Linked DNA regions of Homo sapiens. The protein of the gene in region 1 purifies or fractionates together with the protein of each later gene. This does not show direct contact. Each region holds a gene or a part of one and is shown in the gene's direction. Other genes may lie near its edges.

Region 1 (3,500 bases):
GCTGGTCAGGAAAGCCCTGCAGGACATGAGTGTTAGGCCCGACGCCTGGCCCTTGGCAGCTTGGGAGGTGGCTGGGGCTGCTTTTGCCTTTGCCAGAGACAGCTCCAACTGAGGACCTCTCCAACGGGCCCATCCACAGTCCTTCCTTCCCCTAGTGTCTGGTAAGTGTGGGGACAGGAAGGAGGAGGGGTAGGTGGTGGCCTTGAAGTGTTGGGCTGGTGTGTTCCATTGGGTGGTGCCACTGGGGGATTTTAAAGGGAAGCCAAGAACATCTGTGTTCCAGAGGTCACTCTTGTGACACTCTGTTCAGAGTCAGCAGCCCCATGACTCTGGCATCACAACCCCCACTACCTCCAGCCATTGCCAAGTCTCTTAGAAGGTTGAGAAAGTCACTTGGCTGTCTGTGGGATGCTCCCATGTTCTTGGGCTTTCCACTCATTCATGCTTCCTGTGCTTCGTGTGTGTGTGTGTGTGTGTGTGTGTGTGTGTGTGTGTAGGTAGGTAGGTAGGTAGGTAGGTGTCCATGTGTGATTGTCCCCAGCACTCTAGGCCTAGGGGTTACCCAACATACACACCTCACCAGCACTACTGGTATCCAAACATCTGTTTGGGTTCTCTATATCTTTTCTTCTTGTTCTCAAGATCTTTGTCCCTGTAACAGCTAGAAGCACCAGACTTAGCAGAAAAATCCCCTGGGAATTCTAGATTTACCAGATTTGGGCAGGTAGGATCTTAAGCAAGTCCAGGCTGAATATGTGTTCTGGCCCTTCAGCCACAGCATGAGAACTTGGACACTAACTCCCGGTCCTCTGGTGTCAGGGGACAGACACTGGAGATTTCTATTAGCTTCACCAGGGGCGCCAGGAGCCTCAGGAAGGAAAGGTCAACAACCCAGCCTGGAGCAGTGTTTGCTTTGGAAATGCTGGGCCTTGCAGTTAGACTGATGGTACCCAGGAGGGGTATGTGTGTGTGAAAGCGCAGAGCTAGGGGACCCAGAGGTCCCTGAGGAGGCCCTGGGACTCCTGACTCCCTCCCCGTCCCTACCCTAGACCACCCCCTTTACTTTCTCCTCTGTGGCAAAGTAAAAAGAGAAGTGGCATCTGAGAGTCAGGATATTGGGTTTGGGATTCAATTCTGCCCTGACCAGCTCCTTAACCTTAACTTTGGGGCAAGTTATTAAACCTCTGAGGCTTGGTTTCCAAGTATAGCAGATGGACCCATCTCTGAGGTCCCAGCTCTGACATTCTGTGAGCAGTGGGAGTGAGGTGTTGTCTGTGGCTCGTGGATGGACCATCGTGAATACTTGGATGTTCCCTTCTTCCCTGGTTGTTTATCCCGGTGTTTTCCTCTTCCTGCCTTTGTGTGCCTTTCTCCCTCTCCTCTGCCTGTACTCTAGATCCGCCAGTGGCTTCTGCAGGAGTGACTTTCCCAACACGAGTCCTCGAGGCTAGAGGAACTTTAGGACTTCTTAAGACAGCAGCTGCAGCAACTCTGTCCCTCCTTTGCTCCATGTCGCCCCCTCTGGGGATCTGCCCACTGTGTCCTGGATGAGCCATCCACTCTGACCATCTGATCCCCTGAGATTGTCCCACAATGCAGCCATTCTCTGTGGACACTGCCAGGCACGCAGAGGTCCAATGTCTGGCTCTCCCGGACTCCTTGCTGCTGGCTCACTGCCCGATCAGTCCCTGGGAAACGCCTGCCTTTGGCTCTGCCAGCACTGGTGGGAACCTGCAAGAAATTTGAGCCCTGAACGTCTGCCTTGTCCTGTTGTCCTGTGCTCCAGGGAAGACAGGCGCGATGATGGACTCCCCGTTCCTGGAGCTGTGGCAGTCCAAGGCAGTGTCCATCAGGGAGCAGCTGGGACTCGGGGACCGGCCCAACGACTCCTATTGCTACAACTCGGCCAAAAACAGCACCGTGCTCCAGGGGGTCACCTTTGGTGGCATCCCCACTGTCCTGCTCATAGACGTCAGCTGCTTCCTGGTGAGAGCCCTCATGAGTCGTGTCCCACTGCCTCAGTTATTTGTTTAAATGCCCCACCCAGGGCCTTCTGGGAAACTTAGATGAGAAGTCAGACATAGCTGGGTTTAAATCTCAACTCTGCTGCTTACCAGCTCTGTGACTTAGGCGTGTTACTTAGCTTCTGTGCACCTCCCCTTTCTGCTCCGGAAATGGAGATCATAATTCCTATCTCAGAGAATTTTGGAATTTGGATAAGGCCAGAATACTCATATAGCTATGCCTGTGATTACTACCGTGATTGCAGAGCTCTCAGCCTGTCGTATCTTTAAGGCCCTTGGGAAGGGTCATCTCAAGGGGTTGAGACATGTGACTGGAGAGTACGGACTAGAATAGAGCAGCTGCAGTTCCCAAGTGTCACCTCCTGTTCCCCTCTGGCATCCCTGGGGTTTTTAAAGAATCAGAAGCTGGGCCAGGTACGGTGGCTCATGCCTGTAATCTCAGCACTTTGGGAGGCTGAGGCGAGTAGATTGCCTGAGGTCAGGAGTTCGAGACCAGCCTGGCTAACATGGTGAAACCCTGTCTCTACTAAAAATACAAAAAATTAGCCGGGTGTGGTGGTCGGCGCCTGTAATCCCGGCTACTCTGGAGGCCGAGGCAGGAGAATTGCTTGAACCTGGGAGGCAGAGTTGCAATGAGCCGAGATCACGCCACTGCACTCCAGCCTGTGCAACAAGAGCGAGACGCTGTCTCAAAAAAAACCAAAAAAACAAAAAAAAGAATTAGAAGCTGATTCTTAGAGCGTACCTTCAGCAGGTGGCCTTTCTTTAACGTAGATCTCCTTGTTCACAAAGATGCCCCATGGCATTGTTCTTCCTTATGCAGACTCAACGTTGGCTGGCTGAGATTTATTGGGGTTAAAGTGCCCCTTCTTTTCACAAATGCCATGGGCTGGCCAGTGCCTCTTGATACTGTCTCCTAACATGTGGCAGAGACCATCTGAGTGAAGGGGGCAGATGGCTCTGATGGAGTAAACATCCTTGGACTGCTTGGAGCTGGAGACTAGGCTCGGGTGGGGAACATGGGGAGGGTGGCTTAGGGTAGCAAGGAGGAGTGGGCAGGGGTGTGGGGGTGGATTTCAGAATTGGTGGGATTAGAGGAGGGTGGCCTTGGGTCTTCAGGGTGGGGAGAGTTTGGCCAAGGTGAGGAGTACAGAGAGGGGGACCTGGGCAGGGACCCTAGCTGGGCTGGGTGGGTATTGTTGCAACAGTGTTGGCTGAGAAGAGAGTCACCCTCTATTGTGCTGCTGAAGGTGAATTTTTTTTTTTTTTTTTTTTTTTTTTTTTTTTTTTTTTGAGACAAGGTCTCACTGTCACCCAGGCTGAAGTACAGTGGCATAATCACAATTCACTGCGACTTCCTCCTCCTGGGCTCAAGCAATCCTCCCACCTCAGCCTCCTGCATAGCTGGGACTACAAGCACATGCCACCGTGTCTGGGTTATTTTTGTATTTTTGGTAGAGATGGGATTTCACACCA
Region 2 (3,500 bases), on another chromosome or scaffold:
TGATTCTCCTGCCTCAGCCTCCCAAGTAGCTGGGATTACAGGTGGGCGCTACCACACCCAGCTAGTTTTTGTATTTTTAGTAGAGATGAGGTTTCACCATGTTGGCCAGGCTGGTCTTGAACTCCTGACCTCAGGTGATCCACCCAAAGTGCTGCGATTACAGACGTGAGCCACTGCACCCAGTCTACTTCATCTTAACATCTAGCCACCTCTATGTCATTGAAGCCAGTGGTCATGTTAAATGACCACTTGTCACACTTAACCCATCAGCAGCATTTGATACTCCTGAGCTCTCTTTTGAAATATACTGGAGATACAGGTGGCTAGCACTGTTGTACAGAAGCTGAAACCCTGACATCAGCCCTGACATTCTCCACATGCATATATCCAATCCATGACAGGGCCTGTTGATTTTAGCTTTTGTGTTCCTCCATTTCTCTCCATCTCTACCACCGCCATCCAGAACACCATCCTTCTCCATACTACCATGCTGTAGCCCACAAGGTCTTTGCAAACTTAAGTGTGATCAATCATATGCACCTCTTCTGCTTATATTCCTTCATGGGCTTCCCATGGTCTTTAGTCTGGCCCCACCTGTGTCTCCACATGCGGACTCTTTTCTTTTCTAACCACGCCCCTTCTCACCTTCTCCTTCAGATCTTCCTTAGGGTAGCCTGCCCTCACTCTCTAAAGATAATATAATTAGCTCGGGTGCCCCTAATTATATCCTGTTGCAGTGCCATGTGCTGTATTCATAGCACCTATGACATTTGTAGTTTTTTCTTATATTTGTGTAATTACTTAATGTTTCTTTTTCTCGATTAAAGCATAATCTTTCTCCATGAGAGCAAGAGTCACATTTAATTTTACTTATTAGTATATCCCACTATCTAATATCATGCCCAGCACATAGTAGGTACCCAGTAAATACTGTTGAAAGAACTAATACTTAGTCATGGGTTCTGTGTGAATCCTGTTCATGTTGGGTATCTGCATGATTATGCCAGTATATGTCCATTTTTATACTCTCTACAATTTTTGTGCATCTGTTTTCAAAGACCTGTTGTCTTCCTAGAAATATATGCCATATAACCCCCAAAATACTACTTTAAAAAATGTATTTTCAGAATTATCATTCAGACTTTTTAAAATCTTGTTTTTCTAGATTAAAACATTTTAAGTAGTCTACATTAGTTGTCAAATTTAGATATGTGTTTTTATTATGTTGAAAAATAAAATAAACTCATAGTTAATAGACTTCGAAATCAGAAAATCTAATTTAAGAAACGACTCTAGAAGTAAAGCCCTCTGTCTGCATTAGCTATTTTTCAGTCAGCTATTGCTCCAGAACTAGGGTCAGAGATGCAGGTTCTTTGTGGTTTGAAAGGAAGAATTTAGAAATTGAGAATACTATTTTTCGTTGTTGAGGATCTTTCATTTTTGTTGAAATATAAAAGGTTAGGATTGATAACTTAAAAATCATGAAGCTTCCCTGTCAGGATTGTTCTAGGGCAGCATTGTTTAATAGAAATATGAGACAAGAGGCAAGGCATATATGTAATTTCAAATTTTCTATTAGCCACATTTAAAAAGTAAAAAGATGGCTCATGCCTGTAATCCCAGTTCTTTGGGAGGCCAAGGTGGGGAGGATCACTTGAGGCCGGGAGTTAAAGACCACCCTGGAAAACATAGCAAGACCCTGTCTCCAGAAAAAAAAATTTTTTTAATTAGCTTGGTGTGGTGGTGTGCACGCCTGTAGTCCCAGCCACTCAGGATACTGAGGCAGGAGGATCTCATAAGCCCAGTTTAGGCTGCAGTGAGCTATGATTGCACCACTGTACTTTAGCCTGGGCAACAGGGTAAATCCTGTCTCTTAAAAAAAGTAAAAAGCTGATCAGATTTACTTGTTATCCAATATATTTCCAAGATATTGTCATATCACCATGCAATCAGTATGAAAAAAGTTGAACTATTTTACATTATTTTCTTTGTACTATATATTCAAATTTACAGCACATCTCAATTCAGACTAGCCACATTTCAAGTGCTCAGTATCCTCATGTGCTGAGGGGCTGTTGTATTAGACAGCAGTTCTTGTGGGGTTAAGTTAAAGAACATTAATGGGGTTTTTTTCTTTTTTTAGTGTTAATGTTACATGCAAGCCTTTTATTTATTTTGTGTTAATTGACATAAGATTGACCTCACTTAGTGGCTGGGGATGGTGGCTTACAGTGGTCATCCTAGCACTTTGGGAGGCTGAGGCAGGTGGATTGCTTGAGTCCAGGAATTTGAAACCAGCATGGGCAACAATGGTGAAACCTGTCTCGGTTTGTTTTTTGTTTTAATTTTATTAGGGAAAAAACAAGATTCACCTCACTTAAAATTTTAACTGCTCACATTTTTCTTTAGGGTACATTATGTTTATTTGGTGCCTCTAAAGGAGAACCACCAAGTATACATGTATCAGCTTAATGAGCAGTATACCCTTCACCACAATAATACGTCATCAGTGGTTTTTATTTAAACATCTTTGTTCCTGCACTTTAAATCAAGACTAAAGAACAATATAAGTTACAGAAACCAAGTTGTATATCTATGCCTTATTTCCAAATGTCACCTTTGACATTTGACTATTTTTTCTTAAGGATTCATTGAAATTTTTCTCAGAACTTTCAAGAAATCGAAATCAAATAGAGTTTCTAGGTACTAGAAATCTGTAAAGGAGTATACCTAAAATTAAGACTTTTGGTATCGGCTGGGCGTAGTGGCTCACGCCTGTAATCCCAGCACTTTGGGAGGCCGAAGCGGGTGGATCACTTGAGGTCAGGAGTTCAAGACCAGCCTGGCCAAAATGGTGAAACCTCGTCTTTACTAAAAATACATTTTTAAAAATTAGCCAAGCGTGGTGGTAGGCACCTGTAATCCCAGCTACTTGGGAGGCCGAGGCAGGAGAATTGCTTGAACCCAGGAGGCAGAGGTTGCAGTGAGCCGAGATCACGCCACTGCACTCCAGTCTGGGTGACAGAGTGAAACTCTGTCTCAAAAAAAGACTCTCAGTATCTCTTTGGATTCAGAACTGCAGAGTTGAGTATAGGTATGTTAAGTATATATATTCAAATATTAATATAAATTAAATGGGTATGTTAAAAACAAAAATAGATTAAAAAATTTTAAGTAATGTAAATTTGGCCTTCAAATTCAGATACATATATATACAGTTGTCTCTTGGTATCCACAGTAAATGAATTCTAGGAACATCACCCACAGATACCAAAATCTGTACAGATGCTCAAGTCTTTGCTATAAAATGGTGTACTCTTTGCATATAACCTATGCACATACTCTCATATACTTTAAATCATCTCTAGGTTACTTATACCTCATACAAGGTAAGTGCTATGTAAATAGTATGTGTTTGTTTTTTGTTGTTAGTGTTTTGGAGACAGGGTCTCATGTCACTCAGGCTGGAGTGAACATGGCTCACTGCAGCCTCTGCCTTC
Region 3 (3,500 bases), on another chromosome or scaffold:
CAAAAAGCTGCCAGTTTACCACCTGCTGAGCAGTGGGTTCTAGGAGGTAAAGGATGGCCAGTGGCCCCTGAAAGAACCATAACTAACCTTGCTGTGTCTGCATGATGTGCAAAGAACTAGCCCACTGAGTGAAATCAAATACTGGTTTGTTGAGTGATGGAAAAAATCAAGGCTCATTGCTTGTCTAACATGGTTATTCAGTTCTCTCAAAGAGGGTGAATGCATGGGATATAAAAAAAAAATACTATTTTTTTCTTCAAGGTGGTGGAATTTCCTGTACATCTGTAGTGCTTTATACAGATGAACCTTTTACATCTGGAACCCTCGAGACTGGGGGAGTTTTTCTGGTTAGGTGGAGGGAGGTTCTGGGCTTCCACAAATGAATTAGGTGCTGGCTCTCGAGTTTATTTCCTTTCACTTAACATTTACCTTCTTGGCCTGGTATAAGGGTAGATTAGCGGTGATCGTAAAACAAAACATACTGGCACAACTGCAGCATATGTTAACACTGCTGCAGCTTAATGATGAATGAGTGCTCAGCACTGCAGATATGGGCACAGGATGCCCTATGCCCACACATTGGCAGACAGCCCCTCAATTATTGCAGTGTATGGACGGATTACTGGGTCGGCTGACTTCTTGATAATAGAAGATGTGATTTATAAATGATAATGGACCGTGGATTTCCAGATTTAGAAGGTTAACCTGTATTTGTGAAGTAGAAATCATTGATTTCTTGTGCCATATGTATTTAATGGAATATGGGAGGATTGGTGATGTTGATGATATTGCTGTTCAAGCAGATATCATCATTTGTTTTTTAGACGTCTCTATTATATGTTGTCATAAAGTATTAATGTGGCAATGTTTTCCTAGTCCCTTTCTCTTTACCAAGGTATTCTTGGAAAAATCAGAAGTGTTCTTGAAAATGATCTTGCAGTTAGCACAGCATCAGGTAAACAGTAGATGTTCAATTAATACTTGTTTAATTGTTTTGAGCTGAATTGGTAACACAGTCTGAGTCAGTAATAACAGATGAAGAATGATCAGTTTAGGAAGCAGCCACCAAGAAGCTTATGCATTTCAGACTGGGCTACAAAATTAGCCAGGAGTGGTAGCACAGGCCTGTAATCCCAGCTACTTGAGAGGCTGAGGCGGGAGAATCACTTGAACCTGGGAGGCAGAGGTTGCACTGAGCCGAGATCGTGCCATTGCACTCCAGCCTGGGCAACAAGAGCAAAACTCCATCTCAAATAATAATAATCCTGTATGCTTACTATAAATACAGATTCCTGGGCCTTGAACTTACTGAATCCAAGTCTTGGGTGACAGACTCCAAGAAACTGTTTTTAACAAGCATTCCAAGTGGTTCTTAGGTTCACTAAAATTTGAGAACAGCAATATATAATATAGTAAACACGGAAATATTTATTTTCTGGGCACACTCTCTGTTCACCTTTTTGAACTTCAGTTTCTTCATCGATAGAATGGGAATAATAATACCTATTTCACAAGACTGTTGAAAAAAACGTTTGGTAGACTATTCAACACTATACCAATTGTGACAGAGGTCCTCAAAACCGGCCTAGGTTTGTTGATTCACTGGCAGAACTCAGTACATAGAAACGCTTGCGGATGTGATTTATTATAGCAAAAGGATACAGAGCAAAGTCAGTAACGGGAAAAGGCTCATTGGGGCCAAGTCTGGAGGAAACCATGTGCAAGCTTCCAGTCCTCTTTCACTGAAATCACACAGGTCATGCTTAATTCCTCTAGCAAATGAGTTTTGACAACTTGTGTGAAATGTCTACTAGGGAAGCTTATTAGAGATTCAGTACCCAGGGTTTTTAGTGGGAGCTGGTCACACAGGCACCCTCCACCTGGTACACAGCAAAATTCCAGACCCCAAGGAGGAAAGCAGGTATTCAGTGTAAACCCTATTGTTTACACAGCTTAAGCAGAGTGAGCCACTCTTATCAGGGTGATGGAAACCCTCCCAAAATCCAAGTCCCCAGACACCAGCCAAGGACCAACCTTGCAAACAGGCCTTACTAAGAATAGCAGTGTCAGGCCTGCTATGTTAACTCTTTCCATCACGCAAATATTGTGAAACACTGGTATTTTTTCAGTGAAAGGAAATGACTTGTCCAAGATCATTAAGCTAATCAGCAGTACAGCTGAGACAGACTCCCAGCAATCACATCTTTTCTTTGCTGCCCATAGCCATGCTTCTAGATTATGGGTCATTCCTTTTCATACTGTCATTGAAAGCACTTACTGTTTGTCACTTGAAGCAGAAGAGCAGCCTGCCGGTGGTAAATTGATGCACCCAGTGGGGGAGCCAGGAAGTATTGATGTTTCTGCCAGTTTAGCGTCAACACTTGCTGGTTTCCTCTCTGGAGCATCGCCAAGTTCGTGGATTTTCATTTTTCCTGACTTTTGGACTTTTGTTACTGCTCCCATTCATTTGCTCATAGTCCTAATACTCATTTGCATCATCACTTCATCCCATTCTATACCTTTTGGGTAACACAATTTCCAAATGGTGGGAATACTGCAGTATTTTGTCAAAGAAGACTATATAGGAAAAAAAAAATTCTGAGCAATGAATTTTATGGCAATATTTACAAATATTGGTTTATATCCTGGATTGTCTTTTGAGTTTTATAGTCATGGAAAACCCTAGGGATATCTCTGGTTATTTGGAGTTTCAGCCATTTTTACTGTTATAAAGGAAAATTAACAAATTTGTTATGATTGGAGCAAGGAATAAGGAAATCATACTGGATGGTGCAGTAATCCCACATATCGACAGGGAGTAGAAGCCAGGAGGGAATTGCCACAAGTAAGTAACAGCTGGGTAGAGCAGATTATGTAAGCTACACCTGTTGTGTAAGCAGTGGGGACGTTCTTTAAGCTTCACAATTAATGTATTTTGCAGTAATAAGGATTAAGGGATCTATAGTATAGTGTACAATTTATTCTGGCTTCTTTTCTGAAAACATTCATGTGAATCACAGCTTTCTTGGAACACTCATCCCCTATTTGGTGCTGTAGAGGTGTGTAAGGTACAGCCCTGCTCACCAGTAGCCTGCAGTTTGGTAGAAGAGAGAGAAGACCAGCACACAGGACCATCCTCCACACAAGGCCAGTAGGTCACCAGAGCCATCCTTTTGAAGGACATACACAGTAAGTGCAGTAGGCATTCAGAAGGAGGCACTGGCTCTCTGGCTTCATTTCTTGGGGAGAGCTTTATGGAGGAAGTAGCCTGTCAACTGGGCCTCTGGGGACCCAAAGGGCTGAAGGTTCTGAGATTTTAGGGATGGGCAGTCTCATTACAGGAGGAGGCAATTACCTGAGCAATGGTGCAGGGTCATTGTTGTACTTAAAGCATGGGAACCAGTCAATTTAGAGAACATACATGCCAACCCCAAATGAGTTTGAGCTGTTATAAAAAAAAGTATAACAGGTGGGGCTCAGTGGCTCACGCCTGTAATCCC
Region 4 (4,282 bases), on another chromosome or scaffold:
GATAAGCTGGTGGGTGGGGGGCAGCCAGTGAGTCAGAAGTACCCATTGGTCAGGTCAGAGATGAAATCACAGGGAGTCGAAGCTGTTTTCGCACTGAGTCAGTTCCTGGGTGCCACAACATCAGATGAGCCTGGGTGGTGCCAGGTGACCCACCAAGTGCTGATCTTAGGCTTTACGATGGTGATGTTATCGCCAGGAGCAGTTTGGGGAGGGTCAGAATCCTGTAGCCTCCCGCTGCGTGACTCTTCAACCGTAGTTTCTAATCTTGTGGCTAATCTGTTGGTCCCACAAAAGCAGGCTAATCCCCAGGAAAGGTTTCCTTTGGGAAAGGGCTGTTATCATCTTTGTTTTAAACTAAGTTCCTCCCACAGTTCAACCTGCGTGCAGCAGTAAACAAGGAGGGCATGGAGGTTAGAAGCAAAATGGAGCTGGTTATCTCACTGTCGGCAAATTTTGCAATGGCAGTTTCATAGAGATGCCTGTCCTCTGGGAAAAAAGCTAATAACAGGTTGTCTTTTTGGCTGCAGGTGGAAAACTGCATCTATTAGGAAGAGGTGGGGCTTTGTTCTTACCCACAATTGGAAGTTCTCTATGGAGTAAAGGCGGTATGTGTGCCACCTGATTCCTTTCCCCATGTGTATCTGGTTAGGGTCGGCCACGTGAGATCCGCAAGCATTTTAGAAGGTGGGAGGGGAGGTGGGAGCTGGCTACAGGCCAGGCGTTGGCGTGGTTCCGTGAGTGTGCTCCAGCCAGGCCCAAAGCTTCTCCTGCCCAGAGGGACCGTTTCCTCCAGCGTGGGTCGGGTGCTTCTGCGCCCGGAAAGAGCGCCAGCTCCTCCTTCGGGTGACCCAGGGAGCGGGGCTGCAGGCAAAGGCGCAGGCGGCCAAAAAGGTGCCAACCGGGTCCTGTGGCTTTCAGTTGTCTCTGCCCACCCAATTCACACCATCTTTCCCCCTCAGCCGCCTGTCCTGGGACTTCAGGCTCAGCACCAAACGCAGCAAAAGTAGGTGCACAGAGAGCGGGGTCAGCTCACGCAGCCCGAGCAGAATGGCTGTGCTGCCGCCCCAGGCCCGCGGCCACCGCTGTGTGTGTGGCAGGAGTCAGCCCCCCAGCGTGGGGCCCCGAAGCCCGCGGTCCTTCCACGGGGAGGGCCAGGCCCGCAGGGCGCAGACGATGGGGGACAGGCTGCGCCAGCGCTCGCCTGAGGCCCCGCACACAAACCTCAGGCCCATGGGTCCGCTCCGCGGGGCAGGCGTCGTGGGCCCAAGGAGGCCAGGCCAGGAGTCTCGGCCTCGGGGTTACGCGGCGGCGGGCAGCTCTTCCGCTCCGCTCAGGGTGCTGCTAACCCACAGCCAAGCAGCGACCCGCAGGACCGGCGAGAACCCCGCCACTGACTCCGGCCGGAAGAGAACGTGCAGAGATGTACGTCACTTCCGGGGCGTGGCGTGGCCGGGCGTGGCCGTCCCGCCCCTGGCGGCGTGCCTGGTGCCCTGTTCCGCGTCTGTGCGACCGTCCGTCCCGAGCGCGCAGCCGCGGCAGGTGCGGGGCGGGACCGGGGGCGCCCGGGGTGGGGGGCGTAGGGGGCGCTCGGGTTGGGGGTGGGACAGGGGACGCGCGGGGTGGGGGAGGAGACGGGACCCGGGGTACGCGGGGGTGGGGCGGGTGAGAGGTGCGCAGGGTAGGGGAGTAGGGGGCGCGCGGGGTGTGGGGCTGGACCAGGGGCGCGCGGGGTGGGGGCGGTGGGAGGCGCGCGGCGTGGGGGTTAGAGGGCGCGCAGGGTGGGGGACGGGACCGGGGACGCGCAGGGTGGGGGGCGGGACCGGGGGCGCGCGGGGTGGGGGCGGGACCGGGACGCACGCGGGATGGCGGAGTGGGAGGCGCGCGGGGTTGGGGGTGCTCCTGCGTCCGGTGTGCACCCCATGGCCCCCGCCAGGGAGACCGAGTCCGGGCCAGGGGCCGGAATCGCGGGGCGCGGGCCGGGGCTGGGGTTGGGGTTGGGATCGGGATCGGGATCGGGATCGGGATCCGGGTTCCCCGCGGCTTCAAGTTTTCTCTCGCTGTTACGAGGGCGTGGGAGGCGCGGCCGTGGGGTGGGGTGGGGCCAGGTCCGCGATGTGCTCACCCTGGTCTCTCAGGACCGTTGCCTTTGCGGCTATTTTTTGTGCAATCCCCGAAGCCTGCGTTTCCTGCTGCCTGGGTTCGGGGCGGGGGCATCGCGCAGGCCAGAACGGCCCCTGCGTCCGTAGGCCAGAGCCCCTGCCATCAGCCCCTTTAGGGTGCTCGCCGGCTGTCGGGTGTGGGGGTATGCCAGGCCCCGGAGGACTCGGCTTCCCCGCTAACCCGACCCGCCGCACCCCACCCAGGCCAGGTCAGAGCAGCCCACCATGGGATGGGGAGGGGGTGGAGGCTGCACCCCGCGCCCACCCATCCACCAGCAGCCGCCGGAGCGCCGCGTGGTCACCGTTGTCTTTCTCGGCCTCCTGCTGGACCTCCTGGCCTTCACGCTGCTGCTGCCCCTGCTGCCCGGGCTGTTGGAGAGCCACGGCCGTGCCCACGTGAGTCCTTGCCCTGCGGCCCACAGTGCCCCCTGCCCCCCAGGCCCATCAGACCTCCCCAGCCCTTATCGTGATTCCTCATCCCCTAGGACCCCCTCTATGGCTCCTGGCAGGGCGGGGTGGACTGGTTTGCCACCGCCATCGGGATGCCAGTGGAGAAGAGGTACAACAGTGTCCTGTTCGGAGGTATGGCTGGCTCTGTGCCCTTGGCGGGCTCTCTACGGTCCTATGTTTGGTGGACGTGGTCCAGCCCAGGCCCCTCCCCAATTCTCGGTCCTTGCCTTCCCACTCCCTGGGCTGGCATGTCTGGTGCCCTTGCCCACATGTCCTGGCTTCTGGGCATGATCCCTTGCCTCCGCGTGTCACGTTCAGATCCTTCCTCATCTCTCCATTGGGGCCCCCTCGGCTCAAGGGCCATGGCCTGTGAGTGTAGGGCCCAGCATGACTGGACCCTCAGGACGGGGCTGGACATTGGCCTTGAGGGCCCCAAGACCACAGCTCATGGTGCCAGGCAGCCCCATGATGGTGACATCTGTCTCTCAGGTCTCATTGGCTCGGCATTCTCTGTCCTGCAGTTTCTGTGTGCGCCACTCACTGGGGCCACCTCTGACTGCTTGGGGAGGCGCCCGGTGATGCTGCTGTGCCTGGTATGTTCCTGGGCCTGGGTGCCCATGGGGAAGCCTCCTCCCACCCAGCCAGTAGCCCCATGGGGTTAGGTGGGGAGAGGGAGGTGGCTGTGGGCCCCTCATGGCCACTGGTTGGCCCTCATCGCATCCTGGAGGGGGTTCTCGGGGGACCAGTGGCTCCTGTTCCAGAGCCAGGCTTTCAAGGAGCTGCTCCTGGCCCCTAGGAAGGCACTGAGAACGCAAGTGGCCCTCAGATGCTTCGAAATAGGGCAGGGTTGAGGGGTGTTGTCTGGGTTGCCAAGCCCTACTCTGAGCCACTCCTGGCCTTAAGCGACCGCCCCTGCCTCTTGGCCCCTGCCCCTGGGCAGATGGGTGTGGCCACCTCATATGCAGTCTGGGCCACCTCTCGGAGCTTTGCGGCCTTCCTGGCCTCCAGGCTGATTGGGGGCATCAGCAAAGGGAACGTCAGCCTCTCCACGGCCATCGTTGCTGACCTGGGCTCGCCTCTGGCCCGCAGTCAAGGCATGGTAAGTGCACAGGCTGGGCCTTTGGGGTCCTGGTGGTGACTTCTGGGCCTGGGTCTCCCTGTGCAGCTCGGGTGGTCTTTTCCCTAGGCGGTCATTGGGGTGGCCTTCTCACTGGGCTTCACCCTGGGCCCTATGCTCGGAGCCTCCCTGCCCCTGGAAATGGCACCCTGGTTTGCCCTGCTCTTCGCAGCCTCCGACCTGCTGTTCATCTTCTGCTTCCTGCCAGAGACGCTGCCCCTGGAGAAACGGGTAGGGCTGTGGTCTGGGACCCACAGGCCTAGGGGCTGGAGGCTTGATTCCATAGCGATGTAAAGTGCCCCTGTGTGCCAGCCCCAGATGCCAGGGAGGCTGGGCCGCTCTCTTGGTGTTGGGACCCTTGAGGCCACAGTCCGTGGGTTGCCAGGCCAGCAGCCGCTCCTGCAGGCTCTCCAATGCCATCCCCACAGGCGCCCTCTATCGCCCTGGGGTTCCGTGATGCGGCTGATCTGCTCAGCCCCCTGGCCCTGCTGCGCTTCTCGGCTGTCGCTCGTGGCCAGGACCCACCCTCTGGAGACAGTAAGGACTCGACCAACCC

Evidence for each region. Proteins that work in one complex are often made in the same cells at the same time.
Region 2: the proteins of TMEM63A (region 1) and ALG5 purify together in Homo sapiens (affinity purification with mass spectrometry; 2 studies listed by BioGRID and IntAct, with this or other methods). This does not show direct contact.
Region 3: the proteins of TMEM63A (region 1) and ATP11C purify together in Homo sapiens (affinity purification with mass spectrometry; 2 studies listed by BioGRID and IntAct, with this or other methods). This does not show direct contact.
Region 4: the proteins of TMEM63A (region 1) and SLC75A1 purify together in Homo sapiens (affinity purification with mass spectrometry; 2 studies listed by BioGRID and IntAct, with this or other methods). This does not show direct contact.

Annotation. Positions count from the first base shown.
Region 1 is NC_000001.11:225,875,881-225,879,380, reverse strand, and holds part of TMEM63A (mechanosensitive cation channel TMEM63A), read left to right. Parts: 5' UTR 1-161; intron 162-1,786; 5' UTR 1,787-1,800; coding exon 1,801-1,986; intron 1,987-3,500. UniProt on the Homo sapiens protein: Mechanosensitive cation channel with low conductance and high activation threshold. In contrast to TMEM63B, does not show phospholipid scramblase activity. Acts as a regulator of lysosomal morphology by mediating lysosomal mechanosensitivity.
Region 2 is NC_000013.11:36,961,341-36,964,840, reverse strand, and holds part of ALG5 (dolichyl-phosphate beta-glucosyltransferase), read left to right. Parts: intron 1-3,500. UniProt on the Homo sapiens protein: Dolichyl-phosphate beta-glucosyltransferase that operates in the biosynthetic pathway of dolichol-linked oligosaccharides, the glycan precursors employed in protein asparagine (N)-glycosylation.
Region 3 is NC_000023.11:139,923,054-139,926,553, reverse strand, and holds part of ATP11C (phospholipid-transporting ATPase IG), read left to right. Parts: intron 1-2,322; exon of another isoform or gene 2,323-2,406; intron 2,407-3,500. UniProt on the Homo sapiens protein: Catalytic component of a P4-ATPase flippase complex which catalyzes the hydrolysis of ATP coupled to the transport of aminophospholipids, phosphatidylserines (PS) and phosphatidylethanolamines (PE), from the outer to the inner leaflet of the plasma membrane.
Region 4 is NC_000004.12:2,932,026-2,936,307, reverse strand, and holds the start of SLC75A1 (major facilitator superfamily domain-containing protein 10), read left to right. Parts: upstream 1-1,482; 5' UTR 1,483-1,539; intron 1,540-2,120; exon of another isoform or gene 2,121-2,363; 5' UTR 2,364-2,384; coding exon 2,385-2,555; intron 2,556-2,644; coding exon 2,645-2,741; intron 2,742-3,098; coding exon 3,099-3,202; intron 3,203-3,549; coding exon 3,550-3,708; intron 3,709-3,795; coding exon 3,796-3,957; intron 3,958-4,154; coding exon 4,155-4,263; intron 4,264-4,282. UniProt on the Homo sapiens protein: Probable organic anion transporter which may serve as a transporter for some non-steroidal anti-inflammatory drugs (NSAIDs) as well as other organic anions across the luminal membranes of renal proximal tubules at the final excretion step into the urine.